Regions from separate parts of the Homo sapiens genome. Here all the other regions are linked to region 1. Evidence: fine-mapped expression QTL. A gene starts in region 1. Each other region holds a variant in brackets. All regions are shown on one strand. Distances are between the middles of the regions. Region 1 holds the start of UBAP1L (ubiquitin associated protein 1 like). Region 2 overlaps CLPX (caseinolytic mitochondrial matrix peptidase chaperone subunit X). Region 3 overlaps HACD3 (3-hydroxyacyl-CoA dehydratase 3).

Region 1 (5,000 bases):
CCTGTAATCCCAACACTTTGGGAGGCAGAGGTGGGAGGATTGCTGGAGCCCGTGAGTTAAAGACCAGCCTGGGTAACATAGCAAGACCCCTTCTTTAGAAAACAAAACGAAACAAAACTAAGGCACTCTCCTACTTAAAACTCTTCAATGGTTCCTGGCTGTTTTCAAAATAAAAATTAAACTTCTGAAGGCTTGCAGTGTCTGGCCCGTTTCCTCTCCTCCCATCTTACTCCAGTCATGCTAGCCTTCAACTGCCATGGTCTCTCAGTCCCCACAGAACCTTTGCATATCCTGTTCTGGATACTTGCTAAGTTCTTCCCTGTTGCTTCCCCACAATTAATTAAAAGCTGCTCAAATGCCAGGCACAATGGCTCACATCTGTAATCCCAGCACTTTGGGAGGCCAAGGTGGGCAAATCACTTGAGGTCAGGAGTTCGAGACCTGCCTGGCCAACATGGCAAAACCCCCTCTTTACTAAAAATACAAAAATTAGCCTGGTGTAGTGGCACACGCCTGTACTCACAGCTACTCAGGAGACTGAGACGAGAGAACTGCTTGAACCTGGGAGGCGAAGGTTGCAGTGAACCAAGATCACGCCACTGCACTCCAGCCTGGGCGACAAAGCGAGAGTCTGTCTCAAGAATAAAAAGAAAAGAAAAGAAAAGAAAAAGCTGTTCATTCTTCAGAGCTCAGCTGAAACATCACTTCCTCAAAAAAGCTTGCCCTGACTCTCAAACTTGGTCAGGTCTACCTAGCACAGTGGCCTTTACAAAGTTTTTTATTTTTTACTTTTTTGAGATGAAGTCTTGCTCTGTTGCCCAGGCTAGAGTGCAGTGGCTCGATCTCAGCTCACTGCAATCTCTGCCTCCCAGGTTCAATAGATTCTCCTGCCTCAGCCTCCCGAGTAGCTGGGATTACAAGCACCTGCCACCACGCCCGCTAATTTTTGTATTTTTAATAGAGATAGGGTTTCACCATCTTGGCCAGGCTGGTCTTGAACTCGTGACCTTGTGATCCACCTGCCTTGGGCTCGCAAAGTGCTGGGATTACAGGCATGAGCCACCGCGCCCAGCCTTTTTTTTTTTTTTTTAACTATGACCCATAGTATACTTTTATTTCCTAGCATACACATATGTAAACTGAATAATGATTCTTACCCTTACTATATGATACATATTTCCTATTATTTCAACTAAATGTGTCACAGAACGCTTTTGAAGAAAAATCCTAATTCATAATCTCAGAACCATGTCTTTCTTTCAAAGCACTCAGCATATTTTTTATGATTATTGGGTTAATATCTACCTTCCTCATTGCCTGTATTCTGTATGAGGTTAGGGAGTATTTGGCATTTTGCTTAGCTTTAATAGGCACTTAAACATTTGGAATGAAATATATAAATTGGCTGATAAGTACTTTTCCTTGTAGCACTTATCACAATTGTCTCTAATGACTCTGTTATAATCATTAAGCTTCTTCACTCTAAACTCCAGGAGGTCAGGAATCCTGTCTGTTCACCCCTTCTTACATCCCTAGCACCTAACCACAGTACCTGGAAAATGGTAAATAAAAAATCATTTCCCATAGAACATAATTCAAATTCTGGTATCCAGACTGTGGCCAGCATGAATTAACAAAGCTGAGGAAAGTGTCCACTGTTCTACACAGTTATGCACTCTAACACCACTTGCCTCAGAGACCTTAATCTTTGCTTTGGAGGCTATGAAAAACCAAATTTATTCCAAAAGGCAAATGAACTCTGCAATGGAAACATACTCTTCATGTGTGGCCAGATACAGGAAGCCAGGAACTACTATGTGGATTCACAAAAAGGTAAAGAGCTCATCATATGGAAATAGCTTATAGGTTCTAAGCATTACAAAAAATCTGGGACAAACAGGTGGCAAAAAACAAATTTAGTTGATAATGTCTCATTTAATCACTATTCCATAAATCACTACTATTTCAGAATGTTCACATTCCTTTCATATATTGCATATTATACTTATTTAAATGGAATAAGATATACTTTGTACTTACCTTGTAATTACCAGGAGAACTTCCCTGCAGACAAAGCGTGTATAAATGAATAGCTACAACAGATGGCATAAGCCTAAGCTTCTTGTTACAAATGTCACATGGGCATAGGAGCATGAATGGTTTTATAGAGTGATTAAGTTGGTTGGCTTGTAGCAGCAAATTCTTTGACATCATAAACTCAGCCACTTGGGCTAAATACCCTTAGTATTTAAGAACTAATCTCTTTCTCTCATAGCTTTCTAATCTCTGTATTTACCGAATTTATTAAAAACAAATGCTTTTGTACAGTTTTTCTTTTTAAAAGTATTCCAGTTAATAATTGAAGAATGACAGAATTAAACTATCACTATTTTTGAGTCCCCTCCCCATCAATGAATGAATCTGGGTCTTATCAGTGGCCGCTAACATCACAAAAAAAGCCAAGACATCAGTGCCTCCTGACTGGAAGTACACATTATGTCTGTGAAGTATTCCTGCCAGAAAATTCCAATCTGAATGTGATCAAGCCTCTAGATCAGCACTATCCAATTGAAACGTGATCCACATATGTAATTGCACATCTCAACTCAAATAGATCACATTTCAAGTGCTCAACAGCTGAATGTGGCTACTATATTGGACAGTACAGCTCTGTTTAACTACTAAATTATAGGACATACGAGAACAGAGGGACATGGCATCACAAGGATGCAAACAACAGTGTATGGAGTCTATTCAGATCCTAATTTGAACAAAACGTAAAACATTTACGAGAGGGCAATTTGAACAATGATTGGATATTTGTGATATTCAGGAGTTGTTACTCCTTTATTTAGATGTGATAATGGCCCTGTAGTTAGATTTTTTTTTTAATCACTTAAAGCTACATAATGAAATATTTACAGATGAAGTAATTTGATGCCTGAGATTTGCTTCAAAATAATCCAGGGTGAGTGGAGGATGTATAGATGAAACAAGATTGGCCATAAGCTGATAATGATTTGAAGCTGGATGATGGGTACATGGAAAAAAATCATTGTACTATTCTCTTTACTTTTGAATGTATTTGAAATTTTCCCCAAGTTAAAAAAAGAAAAAAAAAGACTGTGGGATAACATTACAATAACACTGCTCATATTCTTGAAAGTACAATTCATTAAAGATACTACCATGAGTCTCTCTAAACCTGAAAGAACCAGTGGCTACTGCCACCACCACTACACACAGGTAATAAACCAGGAAAATCTTACAAATAAAAACCGAACAAGAGTAATGCTCATGTTTTGTTTTGTTTTTTAATTTTCTTTGTTTTGAGACAGAGTCTCGCTCTATTGCCCAGGCTGGAGTGCAATGGTGTGATCTCAGCTCACTGCAACCTCCGCCTCCTGGCTTCAAGTGATTCTCCTGCCTCAGCCTCCCAAGTAGCTGGGATTACAGGCGCCTGCCACCATGCCTGACTAATTTTTGTATTTTTAGTATAGATGGGGTTTCACCATGTTGGCCAGGCAGGTCTTGAACTCCTGACCTCAAGTGATCCATCTACCTTGGTCTCCCAAAGTGCTGGGATTACAGGCGTGAGCCACCACACCCAGCCTGATCACTTTATTAAAACCTTGCAAGGGCCAAAGGAAAAAGGGATTTTTTTTTTCTCCATCTGTGGCTAAATGCCACCTTCTTGGGTTCTGCTGTCCGAGTTTTCCTGAGTCCCTGCAGCACATTCCCTGCCCTCACAGCAGATATCTTAGTGGCAAGGCTGTCCAGACACCAAACACACATCGTACAATTCACCTTATTTCTACTCTTCCTGCATCTCATCAGAGAGCAAATGGTGGAGATATCTAACAAAAAGGCACACAGGATTGTGGAGCTCTATGAGGGTAATCATATCAGATTTTAAGATTTATAAGCGTAGACATACATTTTGGAGACATGTGGCCCTCATTCCCTATCTGTTGACTCTATATAATGTATAAATTAATGCAAATTAAACAACAGAAAAGGGACAAAGCCATTAGTATCTTGCACCCAAAAGCTTCCAACTACAGTACGTAACATTATTTCCAAAATTGATGGTATCCTTACCAATCCAGACTTGGATTTTGCAGATAAAGTTTAGCATTTAAGATTCAAATTCCTGTAACAAATGCCTGCTTAATAAATTTGAATTTTTGAATGAAAATATGTTTCATCAATGTGAAAGTGTGTGTTAAGTGATTTGGAAGGCAACAAATTGGCAGCAAAGGCACAAACTAAAAAATAAAAATGATTTTTATTTAGTTTTTTGGAAATATAACAAAATAATTGGCAAAAACCAAACCAAAACAGAACCAAAAAAATGACATGTTATATGAGTGATCATCTCCAAGCACAACAGCATTTATTAATGAATATAAAAAATAAATTTTACTTTTTTTTTTTTTGAGACGGAGTCTTGCTCTGTCTCCCAGGCTGGAGTGCCGTGGCGCGATCTCGGCTCACTGCAAGCTCTGCCTCCTGGGTTTTACACCATTCTCCTGCCTCAGCCTCCCCAGTAGCTGGGACTACAGGTGTGCACCACCTACGCCCAGCTAATATTTTTTTGTATTTTTAGTAGAGACAGGGTTTCACCGTGTTAGCCAGGATGGCCTTGATCTCCTGACCTCGTGATCGGCCCGCCTCGGCCTCCCAAAGTGTTGGGATTACAGGCGTGAGCCACTGTGCCCGGCCAAATTTTACTATTTTTATTTGCTTTTTCCCCTAGATTTGACTACATGGATAGTTTTAGAAGCTTGAGTTCCTAAGATAATTCCATAGCTACACTGGCTCCTACAATGTGACTGAGTGAGGTTAGGGAAATATCCTTGGGGATTCTGAACAACTAGACCCTTAGAAACTTAAAAATAACAGGTGCTTTCATTAGGATCCTTCTAACATGGAAAAAATACAGCCATTGTCCATTAAAATACAATCCAATTTGGGTACTCTTCAGGTTTTCTAAGTTC
Region 2 (5,208 bases), 55 kb after region 1:
AAAAAAAAAAATACAAAAATTAGCTGGGCGTGGTGGCAGACACCTGTAATCCCAGCTACTCGGGAGGCTGAGGCAGGAGAATCGCTTGAACCCAGGAGGTGGAGGTTGCAGTGAGCTGAGATTGCGCCATTGCACTCCAGCCTGGGAGATAGAGCAAGACTCCATCTCAGAAAAAAATATATATATAATTATTTCATATCTTTCTTATTTTATCTTTACTCCACTAGTTCCTATTTCTCTGATCAAAAAACCACTAAGAAACTAACAAAATACTGCTTTCTCAGTCATACTGATTGGATTTAAAGATAATCATGCAGACTTTGAAAGCAATACAAAGGTAGTTTAAAGTGAGGATAAAAAGAGTCTCTTTTTTCTTTTAAAAATTTTTGGCCAGGCATGGTGGCTCAGGCCTGTAATCCCAGCACTTTGGGAGGCCGAGGGGGACAGATCACGAGGTCAGGAGATCGAGACCTGGCTAACACGGTAAAACCCTGTCTCTACTAAAAATAGAAAAATTAGCTGGGTGTGGTGGTGGGCGCCTGTAGTCCCAGCTGCTCGGGAGGCTGAGGCAGGAGAATGGTATGAACCCGGGAGGTGGAGCTTGCAGTGAGATGAGATTGCACCACTGCACTCCAGCCTGGGCGACAAAGTGAGACTCTGTCTCAAAAAAAAAAAAAAAAAAAAAAAAAAATTTGTGGATACACAGTGATGAGTTCATGTCCTTTGTAGGGACATGGATGAAGCTAGAAACCATCATTCTGAGCAAACTATCGCAAGGACAGAAAACCAAACACCGCATGTTCTCACTCATAGATGGGAACTGAACAATGAGAACACTTGGACACAGGGTGGGGAACATCACACACCGGGGCCTGTCATGGGGTGGGGGGAGGGGGGAGGGATAGCATTAGGAGATATACCTAATGTAAATGATGAGTTAACGGGTGCAGCACACCAACATGGCACATGTATACCTATGTAACAAACCTGCACGTTGTACATGTGTACCCTAGAACTTAAAGTATAATTAAAAAAAAAACTTTGCGGATACACAGTGGATGAATACATTTATAAGGATTTCTCAATTCCAATGGATCAGCTACAGTATATCCTATGTTAAAGGTGATTTATTTTTCTTTTCTCTTTTTTTTTTTTGAGACAGGGTATCGCTCTGTTGCCCAGGCTGAAGTGCAGTGGCGTGATCACTACTCACTGCAGTCTTGACCTCCTAAGCTCAAGCAATCCTCCCACCTCAGCCTCCCTGAGTATCCAGGACTACAGGCACACGCCACCACGCCTGCCTACTTTTTTTTTTTTTTTTTGAGATGGAGTCTTGCTCTGTCGCCCAGGCTGGAGTGCAGTGGTACAATCTCGCCTCACTGCAAGCTCCACCTCCCAGGTTCACGCCATTCTCCTGCCTTAGCCTCCCGAGTAGCTGGGACTACAGGCGCCTCTCGATCTCCTGACCTCGTGATCTGCCCGCCTCGGCCTCCCAAAGTGCTGGGATTACAGGCATGAGCCACTGCGCCCGGCCGATGCCTGCCTACTTTTAAAAATCTTCTGTAGAGACAGGGTCTCATGATGTTGCCCAGGCGGGTCTCAAACTCCTGGACTCGAGTAACCCTCCCACCTTGGCCTCCGAAAGTGCTTGGGATTACAGGCGTGACCCACTGAGGCCAGCCTACTCTTTCTTTTCAAAACATGGTTATAGGATGTTGGCGGGGCACAGTGGCTCACACCTGTAAACCCAGCACTTTGGAAGGCCAAGACGGGTGGATCACTTGAGCTTAGGAGTTCAAGACCAGCCTGGCCAACATGGTGAAACCCTGTCTCTACTAAAAATACAAAAACTAGCCGGGCATGGTAACTACCTGTAAACCCAGCTACTCAGCAGGCTGAGGCAGGAGAACTGCTTGAACCTGGGAGGCAGAGGTTGCAGTGAGCCGAGATGGTGCCCATCGTGCCCTCTTATTATAAACAAAACAAATAAACATAAAACAACACATGGTTATAGGATGTAGATATATGGATATATTTACTTTTTTTTTTTTTTGAGACAGAGTTTCGCTCTTGTTGCCCAGACTAGTGTGCAATGGTGCAATCTCGGCTTACTGCAACCTT[C/T]GCCTCGCCTCCAGGGTTCAAGCAATTCTCTTGCCTCAGCCTCCGAAGTAGCTGGGATTACAGGCATGTGTCACCACGCCCGGCTAATTTTGTATTTTTTAGTAGAGATGGGGTTTGACCATGTTGGTCAGGCTGGTCTCAAATTCCTGACCTCAGGTGATCCGCCTGCCTCAGCCTCCCAAAGTGCTGGGATTACAGGCATGAGCCACCGCACCCAGCGACTTTTTTTTTAAGAGCTGCTGTCTTGCTATGTTGTCCAGGCTAGCCTCAAATTTCTGTTCTCAAGGGATCCTCCCACCTCCCAAGTAGCTGGGTTTGGACATACATGCTTAACTCAGCCTAACCCTACTAATGGTAACCGGGGACCTCAGAAAGCAATTTGGTAGAGAATCTCTTATAGGTACAGGTGGCAAATACAAAGCTAGTATGTCTAAGTAATACATTTTTGTGTAACCCAACTAGAAAGAGAGAACTGCAGAGAAAAAAAAAAATTCATGGAATTTTTTTTCCTTTGGGAAAATTTTAAATATAAATATCTATCCACAGATTATAGGGAACACTGCACTAGCAAGCACACCTACGTCTTTACAAACTAATCTAAATGAAAAAAGTAGACAATTCCATATTAAAAAAACAACTTTAGGCTGAGCGGGGTGGCTCAGGCCTGTAATCCCAGCACTTTGGGAGGCCGAGGCGGGTGGATCACCTGAGGTCAGGAGTTTGAGACCACCCTGGCCAACATGGCGAAACCCTGTCTTTACTAAAAATACAAAAATTAGCCAGGTGTGGTGGCGGGTGCCTGTAATCCCAGCTACCTGAGAGGCTGAGGCAGGAGAATCCCTTGATGGTTACCTGGGAGGCGGAGGTTGCAGTGAGCCAAGACCACGTCACTATACTCCAGCCTAGGCAACAGAACTCTGTCTCAAAAACAAACAAAACCACTTCATTATCAATTCAATCAATTCTTGTGTTTCTGTTCTTCTTTTTTTTTTTTTTTTTTGAGACGGAGTCTCATTCTGTCACCCAGACTGGAGTGCAGTGGCACGATCTGGGCTCACTGCAACCTCCGCCTCCTGGGTCCAAGCAATTCTCCTGCCTCAGCCTCTGGAGTAGCTGGGACTACAGGTGCATGCCACCACACCCAGCTCATTTTTGTACTTTTAGTAGAGATGGGGTTTCACCATGTTGGCCAGGATGGTCTCGATCTTCTGACCTCATGAAACACCCACCTCAGCCTCCCAAAGTGCTGGGATTACAGGCATGAGCCACTGCGCCCAGCCATGTTTCTGTTCTTAAACACAAGACTAATTAAAAACACATTCTGGGCCGGCCAAGGTGGCTAACGCCTGTAATCCTAGCACTCTGGGAGGCTGAGGCAGGTGGATCACTTAAGGTCAGGAGTTCAAGACCAGCCTAGCCAACATAGTGAAACCCTGTCATTACTAAAAATATACAAATTATCCGGGCGTGTTGTCTTGTGCCTGTAATCCTAGCAACTGGGGAGGCTGAGGCACGAGAATTGCTTGAACCTGGAAAGCAGAGGTTGTAGTGAGCTGGGATCACACCACTGCACTTCAGCCTGGGCAATAGAGCGAGACTCAGTCTCAAAAAAAAAAAAAACATTTCGGATAAATTCTATTAGCAAATTTTAAGGAATAAGCGGTTTCATCCATGTTTCCTATTTGCTGATCACGTATAAATGCTTAAAGAAAAAGATCAAGCTATTTGAAGCATCTGTGACTAACACAAGCCTAAGTAAATAATCACCACTTCCCATCAATGGGAAAGATAGTTACTGCCTTTATAATGATGAGGCACTAGTTTACAATTGTTACTGATGGTAAACAGGGCAAGGATTAAAGGGCAGAGAAGCCGCTGATCTAGTTCAGGCAGTGTGACAGGAAAATCTGGCCTGAGAGCACAAGTACAAAATATTTCTCTAAGGAAATTAGATCAAAAGGAAAATGATTAAACACCAACAAATCACATCCCTCTTTGCTTATTGTTGAAAGGTTGCTTAAATTTGACTTGAATATTTGCAACACAATTTTACACTGACATATTTTCAACATATCCCTAAATTCAAGGATTCAATGTTATTTATCAAAATGCTATTTTGGGAAAAAAAAATACAAGCATTGCAATGCACTTTTTTGTTTTGTTTTGTTTTTTGAGACAGAGTTTCACTCTTGTTGCCCAGGCTGGAGTGCAATGGCGCGATCTCAGCTCACCGCAACCTCCGCCTCCCGAGTAGCTGGGATTACAAGCATGCGCCACCACACCCAGCTAATTTTGTATTTTTAGTAGAGATGGGGTTTCTCCATGTTGGTCAGGCTGGTCTCAAACTCCCAACCTCAGGTGATCCACCCGCCTTGGCCTTCCAAACGGCTGGCATTACAGGCATGAACCACCATGCCTGGCCAATGCATTTTTACTCCAAAAACAAGGGGCAAAAATCTAATTTTGTTAAGTTACCAGGAGATAAATTCTTTCCTTTAAACAGCTACTACAAGTATCCTATATTTCTTTACATAAAATGTTGTTGGTTTGGGAGGCTGAGGTGGGCGGATCACAAGGTCAGGAGTTCAAGACCAGCTTGGCCAAGATGGTGAAACCCCCATCTCTACTAAAAATACAAAAAAATTAGCCGGGCATGTTGGCAGGCGCCTGTAATCCCAGCTACTCAGGAGCCTGAGGCTGAGAACTGCTTGAATCCGAGAGGTGGAGGTTGCAGTGAGCCTCGATCACACCACTGCACTCCAGTCTGGGCAATAAGAGCGAAACTCCGTCTGGGGGGAAAGAAAAAGAAAGACAAAGGATTTAAATTGACACTTCTCCAAAGAAGACAGACAAATGGCCAATAAACCTAAGAAAAGATTAACATCATTAGTCATTAGGGAAATGCAAATCAAAACCACAGTGAGTCCCAGGAGGTAGCACAAAAATCCCAGCACTTTGGGAAGCCAAGGCAGGAGGATCACTTGAGCCCAAGAGTTCGGGACCAGCCTGGGCAACATAAATGAGACCCTGTCTCTAGGGTGGCATTTGCCTGTAGTCTCAGCTATTCAGGATGCTGAGGTGGGAGGA
Region 3 (5,416 bases), 430 kb after region 1:
CAGGGTCTTGCTCTGTCACCCAGGCTGGAGTCCAGGCTGGTCCCAAACTACTGGCATCAAGTGATCTGCCTGCTTTGGCCTTCCAAAGTGCTGGGATTGCAGGTGTGAGCCACCATGCCTGGCCTAGTTTTTCAATTTTTTTGTAGATTTAAATGTTTTCAAAATAAAACATTGGGGTGAAAAGGATCACATTAAAAATACACAGAGTTTTGGGGTTCCCCGGCAGCCACCAGTGTGCTCAGTGATTTGCTCGAAGGATTCATGGGACTTAGTATATAATTGTACTCATGACTAAGGTTTGTTACAGCTGGAGAATACAGGACAGGATCAGTAAAGGAAAAAAAGCACAAGTGGAGTCTGGAGAAATCCACGTATAAGCCTCTTTATCATTCTTCCTCCTGTGAGGGGGTATATTTGAGCACACTCCACCAGCGACGAAAAATGCAATGACTTATGTATAACTTTTCTGCCCAGGGAAGCCCGTTAGTGATTGAGTTCCCAGGATTTTTTTTTTTTTTGAGACGGAGTCTCACTCTGTCACCGAGGCTGGAGTGCAGTGGCCTGATCTCGGCTCACTGCAACCTCCGCCTCCTGGGTTCAAGCAATTCTCCTGCCTCAGCCTCTTGAGTAGCTGGGATTACAGGCGCACGCCATCATGCCTGGCTAATTTTTGTATTTTTAGTAGAGACAGGGTTTCACCATATTGGTCAGGCTGGTCTCGAACTCCTGACCTCATGATCCACCCACCTTGGCCTCCCAAAGTGCTGGGATTACAGGCATGAGCCACCGCGCCCGGCCAAGTACCCATGATTTTTATTGGGGCTTGTTACTTAGGTAACCTCTGCCTAACATGTACCAAAATTTCAGGCTCCTAGAAGGAAAGTTGATATTCACCATAAATCACATTGTTTGTAGGCACAGTTTAGGAACATTGGACCACCCTTATTAGTTAGGTGATGGAGGAAAGCCGAGTTTCTAGATAGATGCCAGCCAAAGGCTGATCTTGGAAGCAGGCCCTTTTAAAGACTGCAGCCTCAGGCTTGCTATATTAACTCTTCTGCACACATACTAATCACATAAATTTGAAGATAAATACTAATGATTTGAATGAGAAAGGAAACTCTTGTCTAAAGGGTTAGATAGCAGGTAGTTTATTGTGAACTCTTTGTAGTTCTGCCAGAGATTCTGAAAATGGGATGAATTGATTTCAGTTCACTTAACAGTTATTGAGGCATTAGGTATATGGAAATGAATAAGACACAGTCCCTGCCATCAAAGAAGTCAGGTCAAGAGGGGCAGTTAAATGATCAACAATGATTGTGGAACAGTGTGATAAGTATTATAGTAAAGGTGAATACAAAGTAGGAAGGAAACTGTTGATTCTGATGTTAGGGTGAGGAGGAGAGAACAGGAATTAACATTTGACCTGAACTTTGAAAGAGAAGTAGTGTTCAACAGGCATGGAAACTTAGATGGGCACTTTAGTCAGAGGAAAAAAAGCAACTGGAATGTGAATTCTTACTAGTTGCCAGGGTCTGTGTGTGCTATTATAACTTAATCCTTACAGCAGACCTGTGATGTAAGTGATTTTATTGTTATTTTTAAAATTATGGCTGGGCATGGTGGCTCATGCCTGTAATCCCAGCAGTTTGGTAGGCTGAGGTGGAGGATTACTTGAGCCCAGGAGTTCGGGACCAGCCTGGGCAACATAGTGAGACTTGTCTCTGCAAAAAATTTAAAAAAGATATTAGCCAGGCATGGTGATGTGGACCTGTAGTCCCAGATACTTGAGAGGCTAAGGTGGGAGGATCCTTGAGCCTGGGAGATGGAGGCTGCAGTGAGCCGAGATTGCACCACTTCACTCCAGCCCTGGGTGACAGAGGGAGATTCTGTCTCAAAAAAAAAAAAAAAAAAAGATGATTAAGATGATTTGAAAATTTTCGTATTCCCTTTTCCCTCTTCACTCCTTTTTTTGAGACAGGGTCTTAGTCTGTCATCCAGGCTGGAATGCAGTGGTGCAATAAAAGCTCACTGCAGCTTCGACCTCCTGGGCTCAAGTTGTCCTCCCAGCTTAGCCTCCCAAGTAGCTGGGACCGCAGGCATGTGCCACCACACTTGGCTAATTTTTTTATTTTTGTAGAGACGGTCTATGTTGTTCAGGCTGGTCTTGAACTCCTGGGCTCAAGTGATCTTCCTGCGTAGGCCTCCCGAAGTGTTGGGATTATAGGCATGAGCTACCTTGCCCAGCCACTCTCTTTCTCTTTTTATTTTTTAAAAGAATTAGAGACAGGGTCTGACTACTTGCTATGTATGTTCCCCTAGCTGCATTTGAACCCCTGGGTTCAAGTGATCCTCCCACTTCAGCCTCCCCGGTAGCTGGGACTATAGGTGCATGGCACCGGGCCTGGCTGTTCACTCCTCCTTTCATAAGCAAAGGCACAGTTTCTTTTCTTGTAAGAGATGGGCTAGGTTGTGTAGATTGAGCTTTCTAATAAAAACAACTAAAAGTGTTGAATAAAAATGTCTTAAAAACATCGAAAAGTTAACACGGTAGAAATGAAATTGGGAACTCAGATAAGCTGAACGTGGAAACTGCTTTTGCCTTGCGAACATTTGCTCAACTAAGTGAACTTGAACTTTGGTTTTGACAGCCCAACAGGGCGCAGGCAATAGAAGTAAGGTCAAACCCAGCCTGGTGCGGTGGCTCACAGCTGTAGTCCCAGCACTTTGGGAGGC[C/T]GAGGTGGGCGGATCACAATGTCAGGAGTTTGAGACCAGCCTGACCAATATGGTGTAATCCCATCTCTGCTGGGAAAAAAAAAAAAAAAAAAAAAAAATTAGCTGGGTGTGGTGGCGCACACCTGTAATCCCAGCTGCTCGGGAGGCTGAAGCAGAAGAATCGCTTGAGCCTGGGAGGTGGAGGTTGCAGTGAATTGAGATGGCGCCACTGTACTCCAGCCTGGGTGACAAAGCGAGATTCCATCTCAAAAAAAAAAAAAAAAAAAAAGATCAAAGCCCAAGACCCACCAAAGGTGTAACATGTAATAGGAAATCTTCTCCATAAACCGTATTTCAGAGAGGACTATACACTTAGGGTTAGGATGAACTAGAAATAAGCCCATTCCATCTGCCTGTCTCCAGTTGCCTTAACACTTAGCTAAGTATTAATAGAAGAAAAGGTCCTTGAGAAGTTAAAACTGTAAGTTGGCTCTCAAAGGTTATGTAGCCCAAATTCACACAATTTAGGAGAACCAAAACTCTAAACTTGAGAACCCTCAAGCCATGCATTTAGTTTAAAGTGGCCTCAACTGGTAGGACCCCTAGGTCCCTGGCAGAAGCAAATGCAGATCGATCCTCTGTAGTAGCTATGCTGATATCACACAAAATAGACTTTTAGGCACAAGTGTATTTTTAGAGATAGAAAGGGCAGTTCATAATGATAAGGTTTCAGTTTACCAGGAAGATACAACAATATTAAGTTATATGCATCTAGGCTGGACACAGTAGCTCATGCCTGTAATCCCAGCACTTTGGGAGGCCGAGGCAGGCAGATCACCTGAGGTCAGGAGTTCAAGACTAGCCTGGCCAACATGGTGAAACCTCGTCTCTGCAAAAATACAAAAATTAGCCGGGCATGATGGCAGTCGCCTGTAATACCAGCTACTCAGGAGGCTGAGGCAGGAGAATCGCCTGAACCTGGGAGGCAGAGGTTACAGTGAGCCGAGACTGAGCCATTGCACTCCAGCCTGGGTGAATTTTTCAAAAAAAAGAAAGAAAATATTAAACAAGTTCATATCAGATAAAATGGATAAATTCCAAGAAATAAAGACAGTTTCTATAAAAGAGATAGAAAACCTGGATAGCCCAATAACCATTAAATACATGGATTCAGTAGTCAAAAATCTTCCCACAGGGAAACTTGCAGGTCTAAATGGCTTCACCTGGAAGTTCTACCAAGCATTTAAATAAATAATTGCAGTTAATAATTATTTGTTAATCTGTTGCTACATAACAAATCACCCAATATGTAGTGGCTTAAAGCAACAATAGTCGTTTATTGTCTCTCACAGTTTCTGTGGGTTAGGACTTCAGGAGGGGCTCTGTTGGGTTGTTCTGGCTTGGAATCTCATGAGGTTGTGGTCAGATGACAGCTGTAGTTGGGGAACACAGAAAGCTAAGCCCACAGAAGAAAAACAAACACCGTGACACTGGGAAGGAGCTGCCTCTTGCTTGTTAACCTTGAGCTGGAAGTAGGAGTTGGGTTGTTTCTCATCCACTGGAAAAAGTGTTAAGTAGTTTCACTTTACATTATGATGCTAAATTGAAGGTATGTAGCAACTTCTGGGAATCAATGAGCAGTCTGGAGAATTTTGACCTCTCCCGAGTCTTGTTTCCTTTGGGGGTTAAGAGAGTCTGGAGCCTCTAAGTTAGAGACACAGGCACAGCGTGTTTCATTTTCATTCACCACCTGCAATCCTCTGCCCTTCCCTCTACCTGTTGGAATTAATTTATCATTCAGGTTGCAGTACAGGTCTCACCTTTGGTGAAGCTTTTCCCCACCACTCTATTCCTGTTGTGCTCTCTCTCTCTCCTAACTCTGCTAACACTTACTGCCTTTTACCACCCTTTTCGTCTTGACCATATGTTTCTTAATAACTATTTGATATCTTCTCACAGAAAGTGCCTCATCTGTCCCACTGGATCCTCTGTTCTACAGCTCAGGGGTTGAGTCCTGGAGATCTCTGTATTCCCGTGTCATATCTCACATAGCACCTTGCATGACTGGCCATTTTCAGAATGGACTAATTCAGTACTTGATTGTTTGCACAGTTAGAGCAGGTTAGGGTCCTTCTTGCAGGAGTCTGCAGTCTTAGATAGGTACAGACAGACATAGAGAAAGCCTACAGAGATGTGAATAAATGACTAAATATATTTCTGGGGGAGGCACAGAGTAGGAGTTTGAGTCCTTATGGGAGAGGGATGAGGGGAAGAAGCCCCTTGTTTAATCTCATTTTTTCTCTTCATTAAAATGCCTTCTTGCATCCTTGGTCTCTTTTCACAGAACCCTGCCATCAGCATCACTGAAAACGTGCTGCATTTCAAAGGTCAGTATCCCAGCAAATGCTCCCATCTCTATACACAGTTAAGGAGGTGTGGTGGTGGTTTCCCTTTTTTAAAAAAATGTATTTGTCTTACTTGTTTTTTGCTGATGTTCACGCCTCTGATCCTCATGAGGTAAGCTAAATTGTTTTGAAATATATGATTAGAAAAGTCAAAGAATTGGTTTAAAATCCTGTTTCCCCCATGGAGAGGCAGTAGATACAGTGAAGGAAAAAAAAAAAAAGAATCCTGGGTTAGAAATCAGGAGACGTGTCTTCTAGCTCTAATTCTGCCGCTATCTTGGACAAGTTATTGACTT

Evidence for each region. PIP is the estimated chance that this variant, and not a neighbour inherited with it, causes the effect. A credible set is the group of variants that fine-mapping cannot tell apart.
Region 2: its variant is the best candidate, but not a certain one, in a credible set for the expression of UBAP1L in transverse colon (GTEx, PIP 0.66).
Region 3: its variant is the best candidate, but not a certain one, in a credible set for the expression of UBAP1L in esophagus muscle (GTEx, PIP 0.90).

What each region holds. Positions count from the first base shown.
Region 1 is chr15:65,113,110-65,118,109 of GRCh38, forward strand. It overlaps UBAP1L (ubiquitin associated protein 1 like), which reads right to left and starts at 2,091. Exons shown (of 6, transcript NM_001163692.2): 1 at 2,041-2,091. PDCD7 (programmed cell death 7) reads right to left here. Exons shown (of 5, transcript NM_005707.2): 5 at 4,270-5,000.
Region 2 is chr15:65,167,720-65,172,927 of GRCh38, forward strand. The region is part of intron 3 of CLPX (caseinolytic mitochondrial matrix peptidase chaperone subunit X); the gene reads right to left. Among named protein-coding and RNA genes, the nearest start is that of CLPX, 15 kb to the right of the region's middle. The variant C/T (reference allele first, on the strand shown) is at 2,122.
Region 3 is chr15:65,546,617-65,552,032 of GRCh38, forward strand. HACD3 (3-hydroxyacyl-CoA dehydratase 3) reads left to right here. Exons shown (of 11, transcript NM_016395.4): 2 at 5,060-5,102. Among named protein-coding and RNA genes, the nearest start is that of HACD3, 19 kb to the left of the region's middle. The variant C/T (reference allele first, on the strand shown) is at 2,737.